Linked DNA regions of Homo sapiens: region 1 is linked to region 2. Evidence: fine-mapped expression QTL. A gene starts in region 2. The other region holds a variant in brackets. All regions are shown on one strand. Distances are between the middles of the regions. Region 1 overlaps CRTAM (cytotoxic and regulatory T cell molecule). Region 2 holds the start of CRTAM (cytotoxic and regulatory T cell molecule).

Region 1 (8,310 bases), 32 kb after region 2:
TATTTTCACAAGCTCATCTGATTTAGCCCAAATGCCTTCCTGTAGGGCCACATTTAACCTAACCAAGATAAATAAATTTTCATTTTATTTGGATAGTTTTTTAAACTCCTTAACAATCCCTCTTGCTACTTAACTATATTTTGCTAAAAATCATTCCTAAAGCTAATTTGAATCTCCTGACTATAACTTAAGTCGATTTTCTCATATGCTTTCTGTAGAAATAAAAAATAACTAGCCCAATAGCTACGTCACTTAAAAAATCTTTTCAAATCATCACACATAATTGCCTTGTTTGTTGTATGCCTGTTTGCTTGTTCTCAGAGAATGAACAATGTAAGTCTCTTTACCTTCAGGGGTAAGCTCTTTCTCATCTCTTCATCTGAGCTGTCTATTAGCTTATATCACATTGTAGAAGTATTGTTACATATTCTCCAGTGGCAAAAAAAAAAAAAAAACCCAAAGTATCTAAACTCCTTTTTCATTTTCCTTATAGAAGCAAATCCTCAGTATTTAGGACTGGCAAGAAAGAAAAGTGGCATCCTGCTGCTCACGCTGGTGTCCTTCCTCATTTTCATACTCTTCATCATAGTCCAGCTCTTCATCATGAAGCTGAGGAAAGCACATGTGATATGGAAGAAAGGTCAGTGGGCAGGGAACCTGACGGGGGCTATAAGACGCCAGAACAAATGGCTAAAAAAAAGGGAAATTCTGTCCATTAAAGCTTTCTGTCAGACACTACATAATCTATTTGATAAGTGCTGTCTCAGATAAGCAATTGTTTGTTTTCTAGTAAACTCGGGTGTGAATCTCCAGGGACTATAGTCTAAGAGTGTATAATCAATAGAAACTAGCATAGATCCAGAAATTGGCATTAAATGATAGACACTTCTATTCACAGAAGGATAAAAATCCCAGGACTGCCTAGCACAGTCCCTACAGGAATCAAAAACTATGTGTTGAATTAATGAGGTATGAGTTATGGGAGGGGCATGGTAAGTCTACTATTGCACAGTAACAGAGGTATTATCTTATTCAAATATACATTTCTACATGTCCATGGCATCAGAAATTAGTTGCTTGATTTTCTTTTTTTGTAGAAAACGAAGTTTCAGAACACACACTAGAAAGTTACAGATCAAGGTCAAATAATGAAGAAACATCATCTGAAGAGAAAAATGGCCAATGTAAGTCAACTGTATGACCTGAGATCTGAACAATGAGGTTCATTAATGTATTAGTCAGATTTCTCCAGAGAGACAGAGACAACAGAATATGTGTGTGTGTGTGTGTGTGTGTGTGTGTGTGTGTGTGTGTGTGTGTGTATGAGGTGGGATTTATTAGGGGAATTGGCTCATGAGATTATGGAGGCTGACAAGTCCTTGGACAGGAGGTCTGCAAACTGGAGACCCTGGTATGCTGGTAGCCTGGCTCAGTCCAAGTTCAAAGGCCTGAGAACTCAGGGGACCGCCAGCGTTAAGTCCTGAAATCCGAAGCTAGGGAGTCTCGAGTTCTGCTGCCAGGAGAGAGGAGGGAGTGTATTCCAGCTCCAGCAGACAGATCAACACATTTGCCTTCTTTCTGATTTTGTTCTTTCTGGGCCCCCAACAGAATGGATGGTGCCCATCCACATCAAGGGCAAATCTCAATGCCCACCTACTCCACTCAGACTCACACACTAATCTCCTCTAGAAACAACCTCATAGACAAACCCAAAAATAATGCTTTACCAGATTTGAGGTATTTCTTAATCCACCCAACTTAACACTTAAAATTAACCATCGCAATTAAGTAGTCGCCTTTAAAAAGAAGGAGGCTGGGTACGGTGGCTCACGCCTGTAATCCCAGCACTTTGGGAGGCCGAGGCGGGCGGATCACGAGGTCAGGAGATCGAGACCATCCTGGCTAACACAGTGAAACCCTGTCTCTACTAAAAATACAAAACAATTAGCCGGGCATGGTGGCAGGAGCCTGTAGTCCCAGCTACTTGGGAGGCTGAGGCAGGAGAATGGCGTGAACCCGGGAGGCGGAGCTTGCAGTGAGCCGAGATCGTGCCACTGCACTCCAACCTGGGTGACAGAGAGGGACTCCACCTCAAAAAAATAAAAATAAAAATAAATAAAAAGAAGGAGAAGAATCAAAATCTGATTTTTTAGCACTAGAAAGTCTCCTAAATCATCCTGTAGAACTTAAGGAGTCTCATCTGCAAAAATAAATAGTAGCAGTTAAGTTCATGTAGCAGAAGGTGACTTCCTTTTGGGAAGCCATCCTTGACTGTTTGACGTCACACACAGGGATACCCCAAGACCACCAGAGGATCCTATGACACCTTTGTCATAGAAGCACGTCTTCCTCCATATTGTAATTTTTGGTGTTTTTACATAGCTACTACAATACTCCTTTAGGTGGTGAGTAATCAGATTTACTCTGTATCCTCAGATTCTAGCACAGGTTAGTTGATAAATTTGTGTTAAATGAGTGACTATAGGCTCAATTAATTCAAGAAGGCATGTGTCAGGTCCTTTGGATGACTTCATTGCAATTCCTGAGACAAAATATGTAAAGAAAATGAAGAGAATCGGGATGGGAAGGAGATTGTGTATGGGAAGTGGAGGTTGGGGATTGTATTCTTGATAAAGATCTGGAAGGCAGAAGCTAGGACTATAGAAAAGCAAGAATATTCCACCTTCCAACCATATTATTTCCTCCATACAAACTAACTTATTCTACCCGCCAGGAGCTGCAAGAAATACAGCGAGTTTTGCCGCTCTATTCTATTGGTTTTACTGAGGTTTTTGTAGGAGGCTTGTCTTTTATAACACCTCTGCCTCTTTAGGTTTTGACCTACTAGAGCGTGAACTGAAAAGAATGAATAGATGTACTAGCTGGGAAAGGAACACAAGAGAATTGACTGTGTGAAAACTGGGGGTGGGAGGGGAAAATGTGTGTAAATAACATCCAAGTCGATTGTGTTGCAACACCTGTTTCTAAATACCCGTCATCACATACTCACCTGGTGGACAGGAAAATGATGTTAATATCATGTGTGAGTTGGGTTGCTCCCTGAGCTGTTTTTCCTAGGCAAGAAGAACCAAAACAGTGGGAGTAGAATTATGTCTGTTAGCTGGAAAAATGGAAGCCCTTCCAGTTCAACTTTTAAAACAATTTTTCTTTCTTTTTTTTTGAGACAGGGTCTCTCACTCTGTTGCCCAGGCTGGAGTGCCATGGTGCCATCATAGGTCACTGCAGCCTTGACCTTTCGAGCTCAATCAGTCCTCCCGCCTCAGCCTTCCTAGTAGCTGGGACTACAGGCACGCACCACCACGCCCAGTTAATTTTTATATTTTTAGTAGAGATGGGGTTTCACCATGTTGCCCAGGCTGGTCTTGAACTCCTGGACTCAAGTGATCCACCCACCTTGGCCTCCCAAAGTGCTGGGATTACAGGCATGAGCCACCACGCCCAGCCAACTTTAAGAATATTTAAAATGAGTACCTGCACGACTCAGGGGATTCCTCCCCAGAAAAGTACATCTTCAGGGGTTTGCTGGGGGTTTCACTTTCTCCCGAGCTCAAGCCTTCACTTTCATCCTCCTTGCCTTAGCACCCTCAAATCTAGCATTTTAATTGTGTTGTTTTGGACATATTAAAAATATTCTCTGGGGCCATCTCTAGTCTCTTTGTACAGAATTGCATAGGCCTTGAGTGTGATCTGCCCCGACCCTATTTTTGCAGTAAGCCCTGTTATTTCTAGTGTGCAATTTTGCTAAGGCAATATGTTATGGTCAGCAACAGATTATTTTACAGCAGAAATATCTGTATATTTTATTTCACGTTTACCAGTATATTGTTTATATAGTAAGACTTCTTTAAAAATTATAGTATAGGCCAGTGCAGTGGCTTATGCCTATAATCCCAGGATTTGGGGAGGCTGAGGCGGGTGGATCACTTGAGCCCAGGTGTTTGAGACCAGCCTAGGCAATATAGTGAAACCCCGTCTCTACAAATAATTTGAAAATTAGCTGGGCATGGTAGTGTGTGCCTGTAATTCCAGGTACTCAAGAGGCTAAGGTTAGAGGATCACTTGAGCCCGGGAGGCTGAGGCTGCAGTGGGCCGTGATCACACCACTGCACTTCAGCCTGGGTGGCAGAGTGAGAACCTGTCTCAAAAAAAAACCACGAAAAACAAAAAAGAATATAATAATGCCTTCAGACCATTTATATGCATCAGTAAGTTTTAGGTTTTTATAAAGCAATATGTGAACCTAAAAATATGATATCCAATCAAAGTGTTTCAAGTAAATGGGTGCAATGTTATTCAAAATAAATATTCATCTTCAACATGTTTTTCTTTCAGCTTCCCACCCTATGCGTTGCATGAACTACATCACAAAGTTGTACTCAGAAGCAAAAACAAAGAGGAAGGAAAATGTACAACATTCAAAATTAGAAGAAAAGCACATCCAAGTACCAGAGAGTATTGTGTAGTGCTCTCTGCAATGGAACATGTGATTTCAGGGTTGCCGCAGTGTCACCTCAGTGGACCAGCCTGGGGGAAGGAGCTTAATTGCTGAGACATTAATAATGACCTCTTAGTGCAATGCAAGATGGTGTCCTCGGATAATGATCTGCCCCGGAGCTAGGGCAGCAACATGAGGACCAAACCATGCACATAAAGCTTGTAGTTTAAAAAAGAAAAGCAAAAAAATAATTATGCCTGACACTACTTCAGAGCAGGAGGATTCTACGAAGCCTTGGGGATCAGGGTCAGTGTGAGCAGCTAACATCCTACCTCAAATGGAACAGGA[T/G]TTTTTGATGCTTTGCTCTAATGGAACTGTTTAAAAAATTTTTTTTTCTTTTTAATATTTTCTTCTGGTCACAAAATAAAGAAATTTGGGATGCAAAGTACCTAAAGATCTCTGATCCTAAGAAGTTACTTCTGGCCAGGCGCGGTGGCTCATGCCTGTAATCCTAGCACTTTGGGAGGCTGAGGTAGGCAGATCACTTGAGGTCAGGAGTTGGAGACCAGCCTGGCCAACATAGTGAAACCCCGTCTCTACTAAAAATGCAAAAATTAGCCAGGCGTAGTGGTGCGCACCTGTAGTCTCAGATACTTGGGAGGCTGAGGGTGGAGAATCGCTTGAACCTGGGAGGTGGAGATTGCAGTGAGTCAAGATCTCACCACTGCACTCCAGCCTGGGCAACAGAGGGAGACTCTGTCTCAAAAAAAAAGAAGTTACTTCCAAGACAGACTTTTAAGATGTAACCAGCACAAAGCAATGTCAGGGAGGAGTGATACATGACAATAAATGAGTCAGATGAGCAAGAAGGCCCCAGAACCCATGCCCCAAGGCACAAAGAGGAGCTCAGGGTAGGCCCAAAGATTCGAATTCCTTAGATTACTAAATCACATGAGCGGACCTTGTCTGTCAGATAAGATTTTTACCTGGAAATTCCATGACCAATACATGTGCAAAAGAAAATGATGGGTTGAATTTACTGATTATTGACCTAATGGATGGCTTTTTAAAATGTTTTAATAAAAAGCAGAATAGATGTTTGTTTTTCTAGTGGTTATACCAAGTTATACTTCCTGTTTTCACGTGTGAAAGTAACATGGGACATGCCTTTCTTTTCCGATCAGTTTATTTAAGCTATACAGCAAACTTTGGCATTTATGTGGAGCATTTCTCATTGTTGGAATCTGAATAAACCAATTACAAAATAACATATGTGCACATTGTAAGTCTGTAATTTGTGATAGGGGCCAGATCCAACCATGCTGATTTTTTGTTCTCTTGACAAAACTGTTTTGGACAATCACAACATTACAGAAAAGTGTAAAGATAGAACAAAGCACTTTTCCCCCTGGAATCATTTGAGAGTAAGTTGACACAATACCCATCACCCCCCAAATCCTTCAGTGTGTGCTTCCTACAAATAAGAACGCTCTCCTTTAGAAACACAATGCAACCATCAAAAGTGGGAAATTAGCACTGTTCTGCTTCCACGAACAGTCCTCAGACTCCATTCAGGTTTCTCCAATTGTCCCAAAGGATCCAGTTCAGAGTCACACTTCATTTTAGTCTCATTCAGTTTGGAACAGTTCTTCGGTCTTGGCTTGCCTTTCATGACCTGGATATTTTTGAAGATTACAGGCTGGTTATTTTGTAGATCATCTCTCAATTTGGCTTTGTCTGCTTCCTCGTGGTTAGATTCAAGTTGTGCAGCTCTCATAGGACTGTCACAGAAGCGATGTTAAGTTTATTTCATTGGGCCAGGCACAATGGCTCACGCCTGTAATCCCAGCACTTTAGGAAGCAGAGGCAGGCGGATCACCTGAGGTCTGGAGTTCGAGACCAGCCTGGCCAACATGGTGAAACCCCATTTCTACTAAAAATGCAAAAATTAGCTGGGTGTAGTGGTGCATGCCTGTAATCCCAGCTACTCAGAAGGCTGAGTCAGGAGAATTGCTTCTACCAAAAAATACAATCCCAGAGTGCTGGGATTACAGGCATGAGCCACTGTGCCTGGCATATAATGGGGTTTTGAGCTAGATGAAATATAGTTCTATTGTTCAATGTTGTACCTTCCAAGAGAGAAGCCCTCCCCCTTCCTGTGATTGCTTTGAACAAATTTGTTCAAGAGCAAATTTGTTATAATTGATAATTACTCTAGACCTGTTGAAATATGTTAATTTTTAGGCCAGGCGCAGTGGCTCACACCTGTAATCCGAGCACTTTGGGAGGCTGAGGCGGGTGGATCACGAGGTGAGGAGTTCGAGACCAGCCGGGCCAAGATGGTGAAACCCCATCTCTAATAAAAATACAAAAATTAGCTGGGTGTGGTGGCGGGCACCTGTAATCCCAGCTACTCGGGAGGCTGAGGCAGGACAATTGCTTGAACCTGGGAGGCGGAGGTGGCAGTAAGCCAAGATCGCACTACTGCACTCCAGTCTGGGAGACAGAGCAAGACTCTGTCTGAAAAAAAAATTTTTTTAAATGTTAATTTTTTCTTACGTTTTCTGCTCTATGTCTTGTTTCCAGTTAGAAGCAAACCAAAACTAAGGCCACAAAAATGTCATTATTCTCCCAAATGCCATCTTGCCTAGGTTGATCTCAAACTCCTGGGCTGAAGTGATCTGCCCACCTCGGCCTCCCAAAGTGCTGAGATTATAGACATGAGTTGCCAAACTGGCCCACACACTTTTAAACAACCAGATCTCGATGAACTCAGAGTGAGAACTCACCCATTAGCAACAGGATGGTACCAAGCTATTCTTGAGGGACCTACCCCTGTGATCAAAATACCTTCTACCAGGCCCCACCTTCAACACTGGAGATTACATTTCGACATGAGATTTGGAGGGAACAAATATCCAAACCACATCAACGAGGCTAGAACATTTTATACTAGAAAGAAAGGAAGCTATCAAAGACTCTTCTGGAACTGTGTTAAAGGGCCCAGAAACCAATTTGTGTACACCCTCCAGGGACTTTCAGTGGCCAAAGATGGGATAATCTGAGCATTAAAAAAGAGTAGTGATTGGGCCGGGCATGGTGGCTCATGCCTGTAATTCCAGCACTTTGGGAGGCTGAGGCAGGTAGATCACGAGGTCAAGAGACCAAGACCATCCTGGTCAACATGGTGAAACCTCGTCTCTACTAAAAATACAAAAATTTGCTGGGCGTAGTGGCATGCACCTGTAGTCCCAGCTACTCAGGAAGCTGAGGCAGGAGAATCGCTTGAACCCGGAAGAGGGAGGTTGCAGTGAGCTGAGATCGCGCCACTGCACTCCAGCCTGGTGACAGAGCGAGACCCTGTCTCAAAAAAAAATAAATAAATAAAATAAAAATAAATGAATAAATAAATAAAGAGTAGTGATTGAAACATGTTAAATACATTAAAACTCATGAGTTTTTACAATACTTTAAAAATGTACTGATCAGCTTTAGAGATTGCTCAGACACTAGTTTTTAAACTGAAATTTGAAATATATCATTAAAATAACTATGTAATAAAAACAGCCATGAGCACAAGAAAAGATGGGAAACGCAAATCGAAACTGGAATATGATGCCGCTTCACACCTATAAAAATGGCTATAATAAAAAAGAGAAAATAACAAATTTTGGAAAGGTTATAGAGAAATGAGAGCCCTCAGACATGACTGGTGAGAATGTAAAATAGCTCAGCCACATTGGAAAACAGCCTTGCGTTACTCAAAAAGTTACACATAGGGTTACCATATGCTTCAGCAGTTCTACTCCTAGAAAGAATATACCCAAGAGAATTGAAAAATATGTCCACACAGG
Region 2 (8,290 bases):
GAGGTCTGCAGATTTATGGAGAATGTTTTTTGTGCCAAGATGCTGGGTGCTCTGGGTATTATAATATTTTCAATTTAACCATCCATGAGTGCCCCATAAAGAAGGTGTGGCCCCGGGTGAGCTGGTTCTCTTCCACCGAGGGCAAGTATAAAAATTTGAAGTCCTTCAAAGGAATCTCATAGACAAAGAAAAATGTGTGTGTGTGTGTGTGTGTGTGTGTGTGTGTGTGTATCACTGACTCACTGTGTCACTTCAGGCAAACTTCTTAATTCTTTGGGTTTTTTAAATTTTATTTATTTTTTTTGAGACAGAGTCTCGTTCTGTCGCCGAGGCTGGAGGGCAGTGGCGCAATCTCGGCTCACTGCAACCTCCGCCTCCCAAGTTCAAGCAATTCTCCTGCCTCAGCCTCCCAAGTAGCTGGAACTACAGCTACCGTAGTCTGGCTAATTTTTTGTATTTTAGTAGAGATAGGGATTCACCGTGTTGCCCAGGCTGGTTGCAAACCCCTGAGCTTAGGCAATCCACCCATCTCAGCCTCCCAAAGTGCTGAGATTACAGGCGTGAGCCACCACGCCCGGCCAATTCTTCATTTTTAAAAATGCTACAGTCGAACTTTCTCAGCTCCTGCCTTATGATTCCTGGACAGTCACCTCAGGCTGTAATTATTCTTCCCATTTTACAAGTGAGGAAACTGATTCCAACAGGCAGGTAGTGTGCTTAGTGCTACACAGCTGCTAGTGACAGGGCCTAGGGGACAAGCCTGGGTCTGTCTGCTACTCACTCCCATGCTCGTCCCACTAAGCTCCCACTACTGCTAGGAAACTTCTCTCTGAATCAATAATTAATTTCAAAGGCTGCTGCTCTGGCTTAGAAACTCCACAGTCACTTTGTGCAAGTTTTACAGCAGTGCTCAGAAAACCTCAACACTTGGTGTGAGTTATCTGAGGCATCTTCTGGTAGATGCAGGCGAGTCCACCTCTTACTCTGACCTTGGGAAAGGTCACGATTCTTCACAGAATCTGTGAAAGGTCAAGAAGAAAGTGTAGGCCCCTTTTGTAAATGCAACAAAAAAACCCAGTGGCTTCTAGACATAAGGAAATCCCCTGTTTTCTGACCCTTAAAACAGTTCATCTTTAGCCTATTTAATAAATGTCTTATTTTTCATGTTTGCACCCCCCCACCCCCAAAACTCAGGTTGACAAGGGTGACGATGAAAAATAGAGAGGATGTTTGTTTATTTCTCCAAAATATGTCCCCCCTCTGCCACCCCACCAAATGTTATTTCCTATTAGTATTGAAACATAATATGAAGATTTCATAAAACGGAGACCAAAATGACAAACTAGCTATCAGTTGTGAGGTCTCCCACATACTGTTCAGTAGACTCTTTCCCATTAGAAAATAGGTAGACCACTTATTACCTTCCAACCTCGTCTTTTTCTCCCAATTCACTGAGCAGCCACAATCTGCTGCCCTCTCCTGTTGAATACTACATGAGCTGCAGGCTGAAGTGGGGGTAATGAGAACAGGGACCCTGGAAAGCACACATGTATGTCGTCCACCAGTTCACCTTGTAGCATTTCCCCCACCAACCGTTCTTAATGTCCAAGTCCAGTGGACTATTGTGACATTTGTCAAGGTTTTCAACCAGTTGAATATGGCACCCGTGGATGAAAAGGATACACTCTCCATCGTCCAAAGTGCAATTTAAAGTAAGCTCTTCTTTAATGCTCTGGGGAAATTGTAAGTCAAACATCTTTTTAGACTTCAGAGCAAAAAGAGTAGCATTTACATCTCAAATAAAGAGTCAATTTAGTCTTTCATTCACTCGTTGACAACCTATGTCAAGTGTTGTTGTGGGTCAGGTTCCTGGGAAACAGAAGCTGATACAGAGATCCGTGTGCAGAAGTTTATAGATGAGTACTCTTGGTGACAAGAAGGAAGCAAGTTGGAGAATCGGTAGAAGCTGGACTGAGGTGCAGTTACAACAAAGATCTCAGCTGATCCTGATCCCTTGGGGAGCTTCAGAGTTGCTCCACCTCAAGGCAAGGGAAAAGGACCTTGAGACCCCCTCATGGATGCCCTATGGAGGAAGAGTGACCCTGGGTAAACTGTTCTCTTCTACTGAGGACAAGTATAAAAATTAGAAGTTCCTGGATGGAATATTATGAGCAAAAGGGAAAAAATTAAAAAATGAAAAATTTGAAAGACAAAATATTGTGTTTTGGAGGATTTTTTATTTTTATTTTTTTAAGACAGGGTGTCACTTTGTCACCCAGATTGCAGTACAGTAGTGTGATCACGGCTCACCGCAGCCTCAACCTCCTGCATTCAAGCAACCCTTCCACCTCAGCCTCCCAAGTATCTGGGACTACAGGCATGCACCACCATGCTCAGCTAATTTTTGTATTTTTTGTAGAGATGGGGGTCTCACTATGTTGCCCAGGTTGGTCTTGAACTCCTGGCTTCAGATGATCCTCACACCTCAGCCTCCCAAAATGCTAAGATTACAGGCATGAGCCACTGTGCCCAGCCAACAAAATATTTGGAAGACATTTTTGATGAGTAAGACTTTTCCTACCCAAACTTCATCAAATTTATCAGAGTATTAACACTAATTTCAATTAGAGCCAGTAAGTAGTGTTTCCTTTTCATTTTCCAAGCATTGCAGACTGATCTCTGTTTTCTAAACATAAACTTACTAATATTTTACTGTGTGCTCCTGGAAAAACTACATTAAATCTATCTCAATTTGTCCAATTAATGAAAATTAAATACCAGAACTGTTCATATGTACATTGTCTCCCCCACTAGATTATATTCTCCTGAAAAACAAGGAATTTATGTTTTTTATTTGAGCATGTCTCAAAGTAGTGCATACTAGATGCTGTACAGGTGACAAGATGAATGGGTGGATAGAAGGATGGATGGATGGATGGATGGATGGATGGATGGACGGACGGACATATGTATAGATAGATGGGTGGGTAAATGGATGAATGAGTGGGTGAATGGATGAATGCGTGGGTGGATAGATAGATGGGTGGTTGGGTGGATGGATGAGTATTTGCATGTATAGATAGATGGGTGGGTGAATGAATAGGTCATGGACGGATGGATGGATGGATAGATGGATGGGTGAATGGATGGATGGGTGGATAAATGGATGGATGGATGGATGGATGGATGGATGGATGGATGGATGGATGGATGGATAGATGGATAGATGGATGGATAAATAGATGGATGGCTGGCTGGCTGGATGGATGGAGAGATGGATGGATGTGTGGATGAATAGATGGATGGATGGGTGGATGGGGAATGAGTGGGCAGGTAATACATGAGTGAGTGGGTGGATGGAAGGATAAATGGATGGGTGGATGGATGTGTGGGTGGATGGATGGAAGGATGGATGGATGGATAGGTGGATGAATAGATTTGTATTTGTGAGTGGGTGGATGAAAAGATGGGTGGATGGGTGGGTGGACAGATATATAGATTTCAAAAATGAGTATATCTATATGAATGAATGAATTCCTCCCCGACAACAATTATAAATTGATGTCAGCATAGAAATAAAATATTCCCAAAGGTTGAGCAAAAATTATCTAATTGTATTTATCTAATAAACTAGAAAAGTAAAAATAAGGATGACGTCACTACACAGGGACATTTTACAGTATTTCTCCCACCCATGCTCCCTCTAAAAACCTTGCAACTAGTTGATTTACCAGTACTACCCACTTGTGGTAAAACAATTTTTGTCACCAACACATCACTCACACCTCTCTGCCATCAAGATAATACATGTGGTCCCCAAAATGTTCCACCAGGAGGTGTTCTGGGGGCAGCTAACTAAGAGGGGGCTTCCAGACAGATGGAGGAGTTGATACACATGAGGTCACAGATCTACTGCCTCTCCCCCTTTAAAAGAAACTACTCAGCTCCATTTGTCTCAGAATCTAGAGGAAGTTGACAAAGGTGCCACAGCAGCACAGCACAGTATGTGGTGGAGAGTTCTCAGCTTGCTGGCATGGTTCCCCTTGCAAGGTAAGGACTTAGAGTTATTTTTGTTGTTGCTCAGCTGACTTAATGTTTTGCCACATCTACCTATCAGTCAGTCAACTGCATTTACAGAGGAGCTGCTGTAGAAGACAACCCAGGTAACTGCTAATACTTTCCAAGCCATGCTCAAATCATGCATCTGAGGGATGTTACTGCGTTTATTTGATCTCTCGTTCAATGGCTAAGGAGTATAGAAAGGATCATTATAGTGTGTGTCTCTGTGGGTCCTATGTTACGGCAAGATGAAACAAGCTTATTAGGCTCTGTCTTTTAAGGGCATACCAGTTGAAAGAGCATCCGTATTGAATTTTATTTTATTTTATTTATTTATTTATTTATGAGACACAGTCTCGCTCTGTCGCCCAGGCTGGAGTGCAGCGGCACGACCTCGGCTCACTGCAAGCTCCGCCTCCCGGGTTCACGCCTTTCTCCTGCCTCAGCCTCCCAAGTAGCTGGGACTACAGGTGCCCGCCACCACCACGCCCGGCTAATTTTTTTATATTTTTAGTAGAGACGGGGTTTCACCGTGTTAGCCAGGATGGTCTCAATCTCCTGACCTCGTGATCTGCCCACCTCAGCCTCCCAAAGTGCTGGGATTACAGGCGTAAGCCACCGCGCCCGGCCTCCACGTTGAATTTTAAAATTTCCTTGCTGTATAAATCTTAGCCAAACGATTTAATCTCTTTGAAACTCAGTTTCTGCATCTTAAAATGAAAATGATAAAAACTTTTGATCCACCAAACTCCCTGGATTGTTAGAAGGATCAAATTTCAAATGTGAAAGCACTTTGAAAATGATAAAGCGCTGTGCAACACTTATTTAGCTCAGAGGTAATAATGAGACCAATGAAAACTTCGTGTTTATTTTTAAAGAGTAAGTTATACTTTACATTTTACTATAATTTTCAAATTTGGATTTTAGTGCTTAATCCTAATGTAGCATTATGAAAATTAAGGATAGAAGCAGTTACCTTTTTGGAGCAGGTCAAATTATTTTCTACCCAAAAGTGGGGGCAGGGGTGTAGGAAGTGGCTCCTGTTGTCCCTCAGTCTCTGCTTACAATTGTATCAGATTCATGCAAAGGACATCCCTCACAAATCCACTCAAAAATTTTGCTTTTTGTGTGTTTGTTACCAAATATTGAAACTGTAGTTCTGTTTCATGAAATGCACCTATCCTTCTAAATCTACATTTAATCTGGAATGGCATCTGAAGGACGCTACTTTAAAAAACTCGATTTCCTATTTTACATAGTACTTCAATTCCCTATTTTATATACTTCAATTAATGCCTTCTTTTTTTGGTCCCTGTACCCTGAGGCACTTAATAAGGATTCAATTTTGGTAATGAATAATATTAGTTTCTTCATTAAGTGGCTTAAAGAATAGCTAATACATTCAAAAAGAGTACATTTAGACAGCTAAAATTAGGATGATTTCAATTTTTCCAGAGTTTAAAGCCTTTCACTGACCTTAACTTTTTCAGGCTTTGAGTTATTGCCTCATAAAAAATAACTCATAAAAATACATTTTTTAAATAAATAGCAAAAATTATGTTTCAAGGTAAACCTAAATTACTTAAATATTATTTATATAGAGAGGAAAAATATTGTTTCATGCACAGTGCTGAGTACTTTGTGTTAATTACACTTAATCATAGCGGAAGTACTGAGGTAGGTACTAATATCCCCAATTTAAAGATGAGAAAAGAAGTTATGTAACCTGCCCAAGTTTTAAAGCTAGAATATGACAACATAAATACCAGCCTATAAAGCACATAGTAAAAGTATTTATTTCATGAAACTTCTAATTAACGTGTGTGTGTGTGTGTGTGTACTAGTTGTGACAGAAAATGTATTAATGTGGATCAAAAGTTGGAAAACCACTGACTTTCACAATTTGGAGGATTCAATATTAAAAAGTCCTATTTGAAAACTCGTTCAAGGGGCCACCCGAGGGCATCTAAGCTCAATGGCATTTGAGCAGTGGCTGCCACCCCTGACCTAACCTTGCTCAAGCCCATCCCAGACGTAATTAGGAGGAGGTGACCATGTTGCTTTCTTGTCAGCAAAAAAGGCAGCAAATCATCAGTTTTGGCAAAGCTATAAACTGTCAGCTGATTTTAGCAAATTAAATTATGGGAAGATCACTGTGACTACTTCTACAGTGTTACTTCTATGGCTGCCAAAAATTTATGGAAAAAAAAAAAGTCACGTAATCTCAGAGCCTGCCCTCTTTTCAAGGCCACTCCCAGAATAAATAGTCTTAGGACTGGTAAAAACACAATAAAAATGAAGCATTTTTCAAAATTCATCCCATTAAATTACACTGTAGACAATGAAAATGTCAAATCCAATGAATTTTGAACCCTCTGTTTTCATTGTTTTGTGGAGGGTAGGATGCAGAAAACAAAGGAAAATTGCAAATTGAGTAGTTCTTTTCATACTTTCTTTGCCCAGGAAAAAGTCACATGTTAGATGACATGTTGAGACAGCTTCTTTAAAATGTACTAAAAATATTCCGATTCTGACAAGTCTGATTTATTTTTATACCTGCAATTTTCTCTATTGATTCAATCTAAAAATAATAAAAATCTTTTTTTGTAATGATCTGAATTAAAACACACTTTTGCTTAATGCCTCATGACAGTCATGTAACTAGGGCTCTGATTTGAGAATTAATGCATTGCATGTCTCTGGCTTTAACTTAGCCCTAGTCTTTATTATTTGATATAACAGTTAAAGAGCAAAGTTAGCATCCTATTATAATATTTATTCCTAAATATATACTTTTACTCTATTTTTTTTTTTTTTGAGACAGAGTCTTGCTCCGTCGCCCAGGCTGGAGTGCAGTGGTGTGATCTCAGCTCACTGCAAGCTCCACCTCCCGGGTTGACGCCATTCTCCTGCCTCAGCCTCCCGAGTAGCTGGGACTACAGGCACCCGCCACCACTCCTGGCTAATTTTTTGTATTTTTAGTAGAGACAGGCTTTCACCATGTTAGCCAGGATAGTCTCGATCTCCTGATCTCATGATCCGCCTGCCTCAGCCTTCCAAAGTGCTGGGATTACAGGTGTGAGCCACCGAGCCCGGCCTATTTACTCATTTTTATCCACTAATTCAACCAATATCTAAAATTTTACATTATGCTAAAATGAGTGGATGGCAAACAGCTTTTCCATAAGGAGTTTGTAATCTATCTACAGAGAAACACCTGTAACCAAATAATTATAAAGTAATGTGCTAAGTGCTGTAATAGAAGTATATCTCAAGACTTTGGGAAACTAGGGGAAAGACATTATGGGGAAAAGGGAAGCTAAGGCCTGTTTTGGAAGTTTTGACAAAAGTTGTGTAATTTGAGTTGAGCCTATAAGTTGAGTCTTGAGTTGGGTCTTAATGTTGAGTCTTGAAGGAGATGAGAAAGACATTCCAGGACAAGAGAATATCATAGAAAAAGACAAACTATCTTCTGGAGCCTGGAACTTTCTGGAAACAGCAAGTGGACATGTACAAGGACTATCTGAAAAGGAGTATCACGACATGGCAAAGGAGGAGAACACAGGAGTCAAGTCGGCTGGAATTTGGGCCTGATTCCTATAGGCAATGGAAGCCATAGCAAACACTTGAATGAAGGAAGAGACATAATCAAATTCATGGGTTATATGTTTGTTTGTTTGTTTGTTTGTTTGTTGAGATGGAATTTCATTCTTGTTGCCCTGGCTGGAGTGCAATGGCACAATCTCACTCACCACAACCTCCACCTCCCAGGTTCAAGTGATTCTCCTGCCTCAGCCTCCAGAGTAGCTGGGATTACAGGTGCCTGCCACCATCCCTGGCTAATTTTTTGTATTTTTAGTAGACATGGGGTTTCACTATGTCGGCCAGGCTGGTCTCGAACTCCTGACCTCAGGAGATCCACCCGCCTCGGCCTCCCAAAGTGCTGGGATTACAGGCGTTGAGCCACCACGCCCGGCCTCAAATTCATGGTTTTAAAATGTAATCCTAGAACCAGATGATGATGATGAATTAGAGAGAAGAGAGACTAGAACTAAGTTATTACAGTGGTCCAGGAAAGAAATGATGGAGTCCTTAACTAAGGCAGCAATAATAGTGACAAAAGAGGACTAAATTGATTAAAGGATGTTTTGGAGAAAGAAGAGTTTAGAGCACCTCTCAAATATCTGGTGTGCAGTGGTTGGTGATGACATTAATTTATATAAGGGAACTC

Evidence for each region. PIP is the estimated chance that this variant, and not a neighbour inherited with it, causes the effect.
Region 1: its variant is fine-mapped to the expression of CRTAM in whole blood (TOPMed, PIP 0.96).

What each region holds. Positions count from the first base shown.
Region 1 is chr11:122,866,916-122,875,225 of GRCh38, forward strand. CRTAM (cytotoxic and regulatory T cell molecule) reads left to right here. Exons shown (of 10, transcript NM_019604.4): 8 at 494-640; 9 at 1,098-1,184; 10 at 4,354-5,728. The coding sequence ends at 4,484. Among named protein-coding and RNA genes, the nearest start is that of JHY, 12 kb to the right of the region's middle. The variant T/G (reference allele first, on the strand shown) is at 4,805.
Region 2 is chr11:122,834,543-122,842,832 of GRCh38, forward strand. CRTAM (cytotoxic and regulatory T cell molecule) reads left to right here and starts at 3,958. Exons shown (of 10, transcript NM_019604.4): 1 at 3,958-4,050. The coding sequence starts at 4,005.